2 linked regions of the Homo sapiens genome follow. The protein of the gene in region 2 purifies or fractionates together with the protein of the main gene of each other region. This does not show direct contact. Each region holds a gene or a part of one and is shown on either strand. Other genes may lie near its edges.

The links. Proteins that work in one complex are often made in the same cells at the same time.
Region 1: the proteins of CLPTM1L (region 2) and GPC6 purify together in Homo sapiens (co-immunoprecipitation; one large-scale study listed by IntAct). This does not show direct contact.

What each region holds. Positions count from the first base shown.
Region 1 is NC_000013.11:94,401,889-94,406,682, forward strand, and holds part of GPC6 (glypican-6 precursor), read left to right. Parts: intron 1-1,126; coding exon 1,127-1,329; 3' UTR 1,330-4,794. UniProt on the Homo sapiens protein: Cell surface proteoglycan that bears heparan sulfate. Putative cell surface coreceptor for growth factors, extracellular matrix proteins, proteases and anti-proteases. Enhances migration and invasion of cancer cells through WNT5A signaling.
Region 2 is NC_000005.10:1,320,335-1,325,622, reverse strand, and holds part of CLPTM1L (lipid scramblase CLPTM1L), read left to right. Parts: intron 1-809; coding exon 810-860; intron 861-1,753; coding exon 1,754-1,836; intron 1,837-2,711; coding exon 2,712-2,746; intron 2,747-3,803; coding exon 3,804-3,859; intron 3,860-3,943; coding exon 3,944-3,988; intron 3,989-4,891; coding exon 4,892-5,007; intron 5,008-5,288. UniProt on the Homo sapiens protein: Scramblase that mediates the translocation of glucosaminylphosphatidylinositol (alpha-D-GlcN-(1-6)-(1,2-diacyl-sn-glycero-3-phospho)-1D-myo-inositol, GlcN-PI) across the endoplasmic reticulum (ER) membrane, from the cytosolic leaflet to the luminal leaflet of the ER membrane, where it participates in the biosynthesis of glycosylphosphatidylinositol (GPI).

The sequences.
Region 1 (4,794 bases), on a different chromosome or scaffold from region 2:
GCCACTACACTCCAGCCTGGGCAACAGAGCCAGACCCTATGATTGATTGATTGATTGATAGATAGATAGATAGATAGATAGATAATAGACTTTATGGATATCTATAAAATATATACTTTTATGTAAATAAACCATTTTGGAGTTATGGACCATACAAAAGCAAGCAGCAGGTCATAGTTTGTCAACTTCTGGTTTAAAGGGACAAGCTGGCTGGGACAGAGTCCAGCCTTGCTCTCAGGAGAACACAGGTGGGGAAAAGGTGGACAAAAGTCATATTGATAGAGACCTCTCACTACTATTGCTGCTGCTCCTCTCATTTCCTATTTGTAGAACTTGTTTTCCTCTATTTTTCTTTTAAAATCCTTTAAAAAGCATGGTATCTTCCTAGAGCAATGGCTCTGAGTATAAAAAGAGCAAAGAATGGAATTTCTTAAACTTAAGTACTGGCCAGAAGAAATGTCTAAGGCCAACATGGTAGGTGTGGCCTCCCCTTGAGTCTGGGGTTCACACATTCCTTGGGTTGCATAACTCAGGTATCAGTTGATATTGTTCTTCAAACACCTATTTCTGTACAGTCCACCCACTCATCACACCACTGCCTATTAAAAACAATCCTGTTGGGTAGGGTGGGGGACCATGGATGGGGAGATTTTGCCTCCCACCACCATGCCCCATATCTGCTGAGCTCTGTTTCCACTCTTTCCTGGTTGGTTGTATTAGTCCGTTTTCATACTGCTATAAAGAACTGCCCGAGACTGGGTAATTTATAAAGGAAAGTGGTTAATTAACTCACAGTTCAGCATGGCTGGGGAGGCCTCAGGAAAATTACAATCATGGTGGAAGGCGAAGGGGAAGCAAAAGACCTTCTTCACAAGGTGACAGGAAAGAGAAGTGCCAAGCCGTGGGGGAAGAGCCCCTTAAAAAACCATCAGATCTCGTGAGAACTCACTCACTATCACGAGAACAGGATGGGGGAAACCACCACCATGATTGAATTACCTCCACATGGCCTCTCCCCTGACAGGTGGGGATTATGGGGATTACAATTCAAGATGAGATTTGGGTGGGGCCACAAAGCCTAAACATATCAGTGGTCTAACTTTCTTTTTCAATCTTTCCACACTAGGTGATGAATCCAGTGGCTCAGGGAGTGGCAGTGGGTGCATGGATGACGTGTGTCCCACGGAGTTTGAGTTTGTCACCACAGAGGCCCCCGCAGTGGATCCCGACCGGAGAGAGGTGGACTCTTCTGCAGCCCAGCGTGGCCACTCCCTGCTCTCCTGGTCTCTCACCTGCATTGTCCTGGCACTGCAGAGACTGTGCAGATAATCTTGGGTTTTTGGTCAGATGAAACTGCATTTTAGCTATCTGAATGGCCAACTCACTTCTTTTCTTACACTCTTGGACAATGGACCATGCCACAAAAACTTACCGTTTTCTATGAGAAGAGAGCAGTAATGCAATCTGCCTCCCTTTTTGTTTTCCCAAAGAGTACCGGGTGCCAGACTGAACTGCTTCCTCTTTCCTTCAGCTATCTGTGGGGACCTTGTTTATTCTAGAGAGAATTCTTACTCAAATTTTTCGTACCAGGAGATTTTCTTACCTTCATTTGCTTTTATGCTGCAGAAGTAAAGGAATCTCACGTTGTGAGGGTTTTTTTTTTCTCATTTAAAATAAAAAAGGAAGAAAGAAAATAATTTTCCTTGTAAAATCGGGCCAAACCCCAAGACAGCTACATTTTCAACAAAAAAGCAAACAGAGAAAAATAAATGAACTTTAACACTGTAAGTTCAGCATTGACAGCCAACTTCCAGTGTAAGCTTTTTTGTGACAAATCCGGGTTTAAAAATGCTTATGGGGAGAAAGCTTAAAGTTTGTTCTAAATGTAGTGAAAATGCACTGTTGTCTTGGAGGTATCATCTTGCACTCTAACCAAACAACACCAAATTAATCTGGAGGTACTGATACTAAATTTGGAATCCCGTCTTTAATATGAGAACACAAATTACTACAACTCAGTACCTCTGTCTTACTCTGCCCAATTTCAATTTAGTAATGGCACCATTATTCTTAATTCCCTTAATGTCTGTCCGCTGTATCCAATTGGCACAGATTTTCCCCTTCATCTTCAATTACTAGTAGCTACCCCCATCAATTCACCTTCCTCAAGAGTCTCAATTGAAAATAATCTTTGATGATACAATCTCTGCTTTTGCCACAGGTTTGACATTAACTAGACGTTTCTGCCCCTGTGCTCATTACCCTCCCAAAACAATAGTTTTTTTAATGAATTGAAACACAATTAGATCCATTCCTGAGTTTTCATTTTTAACTATTTACTTTGTGTCAGTTGGTTTCTGCATCACAAGGGCATTCTCTTACAAAACAACTCACAACAGAAAAAAAAAGTCAAGACAAAAAATATATATATATAGTATTGACATGGAGATTTCTTTCACTTTTTTAGTCTTAGTATGATCATCTATTTTTATATCTATGTATATATAAATCACAGATTTTAACTTCTTAATTCCAAGCTCAGGGTTGACACACCTTTGTAAGAAAATGTTTTGTCAACCAGCTCTTCTTGTTTTGTGCTGCTCAAAGAAGGGATTCCTCAGTGATCGGTGAGCACCAAGAATCAAGAAAGAGAACTTTTTATGTATCTAACTGTCCATTTATTAAAAATTTGCCAGGGCACACCCTTCTGCATGAGTGTGCTTCAGCCTGGGTGCTCCAGACTACACCAAACTCATGGGATGAGCCATTGGTGTGCAGGGCTTTACCGGTGATGGAAACTGTATGTGTAAAGAATGTTATTCATGAAAAACCATTGCTTTCATGTAAAACACCTTCGGCCTAGGATTCCTGCCTGGCACTTGGATACATTACCTAACTCAATAGGCCAGTTTAGAGCCACAGCCTAACCTGTTCACCAAGTAGGCCAAAGCCAGGCCTTTCGCTCCCCCTGACAGAGAGAAGCAAAATAAACCCAACTGGGGGCTTTATGAATACAGTTGGCTATCCATATGTTTCTTAGTTTTTATGATGCATCTGGAGTAGGGAAAAGTAATGTTTCAAGACACCATAGTAGGCCAGTTACATTTTAATTAACTCATCGACAGTATTGACACGTAAATGGTATTTTTCAATCTGTTCTCATCAAAATTAAAATTAGTTATTGATTTAGTCATCACATTTAAGTAGAACACATGTGGCACAATAGTATTAAGTATATTTGAGCACTTTTGCAAGACAGAAAGTATTTACAAGCATCTATTGCTACTTTATGCCTAATGAAATATAAAATGTAGGATGATGAGAGACTTTGTGGCATTCTTTCATTTAAACCTTTATGAAATTAACCATCTAGTTCATCATTACATACTCCTAGAAAACCATCCATTTCACTGCCCACATTTTGGCTTCCTACCACAAATTCCACATAAGACTTCTCTATGAAGGACCAGTCATTTACATTGCTCATTTCATTCTGTGTTCAGAAGTCAGTATTGTCTTTCTCCAATAATTAAGGTGCAATACAAATTAAATCAACCTTGATTTTCCAGACTATTTGAATAATAACTTGCTTTTATGGCTTTAAACTCCAGGTCTTTCCTTTTTAAAATATTTCTGCATTCTCTTTTATGAACTAGATCAGGATGCCTTGTTTTTCCTGTGCTTTCACCCCCAAAAGGTTTTGTGCATGTGTATGAATACACATAATATTAGTGAATGTGAACCCATGTTCTATACGCACTAAACACACAGTTAATATATAAACGCCTGCTTCATTTGTTTCAACACCTTCATTATCAATATGATTCATATTGATGAGATATAGTGATGCATAATGAGCCAGGCAGAGAGCTGAAATGATATCAGTTAATGATGTCACAGTGTTAGCACCCTGCATGGATGTGGTCAAAATATCATTCAAGTTGTACTTCCTAGTTTTTATCATCATACTACTATGTCATATGATTTTCAGACTAATTTAACATGAGAAATGTTTTGGCCCTAAAGGATTTCACTTAACCTAGTTACCCTATTTCAGTAAGTATTTTGGAATTCAACCCTCGAATTATTTTTTCTCATTTCAGCATAGTGATAGGGGATGCAATGAGGCTTCATTATTTTTTATGACCTGCCCCTCATTTGCTCTGATGTTCCCTAAATTCTGTAATCATATCATAACTTTTGTTATGAATAGAGAGGAATGGGCTCACTGAAACCTGACACTAGAAATTGGTGGGTGATGCTCATAACTGCAAACACTTAGCTTATTGAAGTGCCTCTATTTACATGTTCTTTAGTTATAATATGTATTTTTCTAACAGAAATACACGTCTGTAATTGGTATATATTATACTTTGTATGTGTCACAACAAAAGCTAAACAGAGGCTAAAGTCTTTAGCAGAGAAGAATGAATTACAAATTTACCAATAAGAGCTCTGTTTATGGTTCTGTATTGAAGGACAACCATGACAACCTTCTGTCATTTTCACGAAGGCCAAGTTGGTACTTTGATTATAGCCATCGTAGAACATTAGCACTAGAAATCTGTCTCCCTTACAATGACTTACCTAGCTAGCATCAAGTAACTTGTATCACCTGCTTTAAATGTAAGGGATAGAAAATACTATTTTGTCTACACTGAAAAACATTATTATTCATTGATAAGTAGTAATAATTATAAAAGTAACATTCTTTAAAGCAAACACATTGAAAATATTATTACAGGCAGAACCCTGATTTTTAATTTATATTCCCTGCTGCAGACATTAGCCTTC
Region 2 (5,288 bases):
TGGAGGCAGCACTGGTTTCTGATCGCAGCCACTCTCTTCGCCTGAGGATTCCCCGGTCATATACCTAGTTCTGACCGTCTTCAGTGCAGACGGCAGCACTTCTGGGCCTGAGCCGGCCTCTGGGAGGAAGGATGCTGGCTGGCCAGCACGTGTGCTTCGTTTTGGCACCTTGTCCAGAGGCGCTCCCGAGGCTGGTGCTGACTGGGGTCCGTACAGTCCTGGCAGTCCTGAAGTGAGTGAGCCCCTGCCCTGAGCTGGTGGCTGCCCCAGTGCCTGGGCGCCCATAAGGCCCCTAGGCAGATGAGGGCTGGGGCAGAGCTGGAGTTGAATCTCAGTGCCCACGGATGGACCTTGATTGAGGCGGGGCCCTCAGCAGTCACAGGCTGAGATTTTCCATGCTGTGGGCAGGGGGGTCAGGAAGCCCAGCACACGCAGCGCAGCCACTGTGTTCCACCTTGCCCCATGGCTCCCGGCCGGCTGGTTCGGAGCAGTGTTGGCTGTGCCTGTGTGCTCTGCAGTGTTCTCACTGAAGCGGTGGCACTGAAAACTGAGCCACCTGAGCAAGGAACAGCAGTGAGGCCGCGTTGCCCCCATCAGGCTTGTGGGACCCAGGGCCAGGGTGAGGCGGGAAGGATCCATGCGGATCCCCGTCCTCTGGGTCCTCTCCTCGCCTGGTAGGGACCTGAGCGCCCTCTGTAGTGAGGCCTGGGTCAGCTCTGCAGCCATATGTGACGCCCCTTAGTCACAGCTCAGCTGTGCTCAGATCCTCCCTGAGTCTATTAATATCACTGTGTTGAATTTCACAACAGTTTGGCACTTACAGCGAATCTGAGAGGAAAACCGAGGAGTACGATACTCAGGTAAGTCACTTGTGATTCAGGGCACGTGCATGCCAGGCAAATCCAACACCCTCAAAGACGGGTCTTTTACTGTCATTGCTCAGTGCGGAAGTCTCCTTGGAGTACGGGTCAGCCCGCCTTGAGCAGGGATCCCAAGAGTGAACACATAAAACCCAAATTTCTTACTGGGAAGGGCGGGGGCTCGCAGAGACTCATTTCCCAGTCCTTACAGGCACAGCCTGCCTGTGTCACCGTATAGTAGGGATATTTTCATCGTTTGTAAGTCACATTCGCCAGGCAGCTGACGCAGGCCATGGTGTCTGCTGTGGTTGCTGGGAACGCACTTGCCGTCACCAAGGCCATAATGGCCGCGGCCGCACAGTGGCCTGGAGGAATGGCCCCAGCAGCACAGGGCGTCACCTTTCCCCATTGCTGTTGGGGGAGCTGGAATTCTCAGTTCCAGTTAATAGAACATTTCTGCACAGATGATTTTAGTTTGGTTTAATCTTCACCAGCTTATATCCAACTTGCATGGCGTTGTAAAGCTGAAATCAGAATGGATACAGCTGGCGATGTAACTACATTACTTAGTAGGCAGTTTTTTCCGGTTTCTTTCCATTATGTTTATTGATCTGTTGTGGGTTGGTTGGTTTTGACCAACCAGAATTGATCTATTATTGTTAACTAGCGCCTGTAGTTACACCCGGGCTCTGGCGTGTGCGGTGCCTCCTGGGGCTGTGGCGAGTGTGCGATGCCCTGCCTGTGCCCCTCACGCCGCCCCCTGCAGAGCAGCCCTGCCACCCTGAGCGCTGTAGCTCGTTCTGTCTGTCCCTGTCGGGGTGAGCTCCATGCAGTGTGTTTACAGAGGCTTGGCGTTTGGGCCTCTAACTGGAAGCCATCTTTGTTCCCTGCAGGCCATGAAGTACTTGTCATACCTGCTGTACCCTCTCTGTGTCGGGGGTGCTGTCTATTCACTCCTGAATATCAAATATAAGAGGTAGGAGGCCGCACACGCTTCCCCTGCTGCGTCTTTCCCCTGAGAAAGCCATTTGGATGACTGAGCCAGAGCGGGGTGCGACTGGAGGGCAAACTCGGGGCCGGGGCACTTGGGCCAGCGCCTGGGAGGGGTCCTGCCCCTGCAGCTGCACACGGTGGGCTCTGGGCCTCAGTGTCCCCCTGGTAAGGTGTAGCTGAGAGGACTGACTCCAGCCACCAGGCTTCATGGGAGGCTTGGGCCTGAGCTGAGAGGGGTCCTGGAGCCCCTGGCCTCTGCTGCCCGTGTGGGGTGCTGGCCCTGAGCTGAGAGGGTTCCCGGAGCCCCCGGCCTCTGCTGCCTGGGTGGGGTGTTGGCCCTGAGCCGAGAGGGGTCCTGGAGCCTCCAGCCTCTGCTGCCCGGGTGGGGTGCTGGCCCTGAGCCAAGAGGGATCCCGGAGCCCCCAGCCTCTGTTGCCCAGGTGGGCTGCTGGCCCTGAGCCAAGAGGGATCCCGGAGCCTCCAGCCTCTGCTGCCCAGGTGGGGTGCTGGCCCTGAGCTGAGGGGTTCCTGGAGTGCCCGGCCTCTGCTGCCCGGGCAGGGTGCTGGCCCTGAGCTGAGAGGGGTCCTGGAGCCCCTGGCCTCTGCTGCCCAGGTGGGGTGCTGGCCCTGAGCTGAGGGGTTCCTGGAGTGCCCGGCCTCTGCTGCCCGGCCGGGGGTGCTCAGCGCTATCTCCAGCTTGAGAACCAGGCTCAGCACTGCTGCTCTTGGCTGCCGAGCTGCCGTGAGAGCATCTGGGTATTTTCAGAGGATTTTTAATGAAAGAATTATTTTTCATCAATTTAATACAGATATTAAGCTATGCGAGAAATAGGACTTCTCCTTTTTTTTCCGTTTCAGCTGGTACTCCTGGTTAATCAACAGCTTCGTCAACGGTGAGTCCATGTGCTTCCCTGCTTCAGTACTAGTGTTTCCAGCAGGCAGCGATTTAATTGTTCTTGCATTGAAACCCAGTGTGGCAAGCCCCCCTGTGATTTGAGGCTAATCCCTCCCCACCCTGTTCTGGCACATGTGCGGTGCCCAGGGCTCCCCCCAGGCTGTGAGCAGATAAAGCCCTGCGTGGCTTCACAACAGTGACTGGTTCTGAGAAACAGGTCCTTGTACAAGCGACAGGGAGTGCTCACACCAGATGTGGCAGCCCCTCCACGCCAGGCTGTGTGGTGCAGCCGCCTGGTATATGTGTCCATCGCTGATGAAAACAGCATTGTGTGGTGCATGACTGTTGTCTGTTTTCTTCATGGAAACAAGGAAACCTAAGCATTAAAACAACACCATCCACGTCTGGTTCCTTAGAGCAAATGGAAGCACCAGGCTCTGGTGCACGGCGCGCCCCCTCCTGCAGATGCAGTGTGGGGACCCTGCAGGGCCCTGTGCTCGGGGCCACATGTCCTGGGAGGCCCGCCTGCCCCAGGTGGCACCTTCAGCTGCATGGGCTGCTGTGTCCATCCCCCAGCCCCACCAGACCAGCCCTGATCGCAGCTTTGTGGTCTCTTTGGGAAGTGGTCCCGTGAGCATTAAGGGCGAGGGCCTGTCTGGTGCAGAGCAGGTGGGTCCCGCACTGCCGTCCTCCCTGGTAGGAGTCCCACACCTGACCCCTGGGGCAGGACCTTGTGGGTCAGGAGGCCGTGTCCTCATAGCCCCAGGGTGCTCCAGTGCTCTCACTGACTTGACCCCGTGGGCAGCAGTTACACTGATTAATAAATAGAAGAGCTTTGCTCTCCAAAGTTGTCGTAGACTCTTGATAAACTTACCAGCCAGAAAGCTGCTTCACACCATGATGGACTCTGAAGTTGTCTGGATAGCAGACCTTGTTTTCTGCCCACTATGCATAGACGTGGCAGCTCGGCCCTCCACACCTCGTGAGTGCCGTCTGTGCGTAGATGTGGCAGCCCGGCCCTCCGCACCTCGTGAGTGCTGTCTGTCTTTCTGCAGGGGTCTATGCCTTTGGTTTCCTCTTCATGCTGCCCCAGCTCTTTGTGAACTACAAGGTAAGGCGGTGTGTGCTGCCCGCGGCCCGGCCCCCGTCTCCTGTGCTGCCCACAGCTGACCTGGGCCTGTCTCTCCTGTTTCAGTTGAAGTCAGTGGCACATCTGCCCTGGAAGGCCTTCACCTACAAGGTGAGTGTGACAGCCGGTGAGGAATCCCTTCTCACTGAGCAGAGCGTGAGCAAGGGCGTCTTCCAGCCAACAGCATTACTGGGGCCATCTCTGCCCAGAGTGCATCTGCACCTGTCCCTTTCATTGAAGAATATTGAGGAGGCTCCTTTAAAAAAAAAAGCGAAGAGCTATAGAGTAACTTCAGACCCTGAAAGACTGGGGTGGTTCTCTCACTTGTCACAGATTTGGTTTTCTTTTTCTTTTTTAGTGTTTATGTTTCTTCTTAGCACATGTGTCAAGACACAGACCCCCTGTGGCTCAGTAACCGGTGCCTGGGGACAACGGATTCAGGCCTCCCAGGCAGGAATGGAAGCCCCCATGGGCCGTGGCCATTCCCCGCTGGCAGAGCTGTGGAGGCCCCCTTGGCTCCGTGTGGGATTAGAAGTGCCTCGGCATTGCAGGCGGAGCTGAGTTAATGGGACATGATTTGCACTTTTCTGAAGTCAATTACAAGCTCCCAGAGGAAAGGGCAATGCTCAGGTGGCTCTGCCCTTGGCTCTCCCCTTGGCTGTGGTCTCGGGCGGCTCTAACCTTGGCTCTGGTCTCAGGTGGCTCTGCCCTTGGCTCTGTCTCGGGCGGCTCCAGCCTTGGCTCTGGTTTCAGGCCATTCTCTTTGGGTTCCCCGATGTGGGAGCCTGGGCAAGACCCGCAGTGTGTCGGGTGCCAGCAGCTGTGGGGAGCCCATGAGGGAACAGAGCTCCGTATCTCCACTTGCCGGCTTTCTGCTCTTTTTGTTGTTGCTGTGAGGAGTTCCAGTTAGTTCCAAGCATCTGCCAAAAGCCGTTGGCTTGGTTAGGTTACCAAAAACAGTAGGATTCCAGCCCCAGCAACTGGGGTTCACCCTCCTCCCGTCTGGCCCTGCAGGCTTTCAACACCTTCATTGATGACGTCTTTGCCTTCATCATCACCATGCCCACGTCTCACCGGCTGGCCTGCTTCCGGGACGACGTGGTGTTTCTGGTCTACCTGTACCAGCGGTGGTGAGTGCGGCTGCGTATGCTCGGCCGTTGCTCCGTCTCAGCGGCGTGGCTGCTGCTGAACGGAATGACGGCTTTCACCGCACCCTGCGCCTGTTTATCCATTTGAGGGAAAAGATAATTTGCAGGTGGTGGTTTTTCCTGTCTTGCCTAAACTTGGGTTCCAGTTGCCCATGATATGTCCTGGCAAGAAACTGTTCCAGCTCTGTCTCCTCACTGTGCTTTAGAAATGCTCGTTTCTATGTGAATTATTGATGAGCCACTGAAAGCAAATGTCTCTCCTT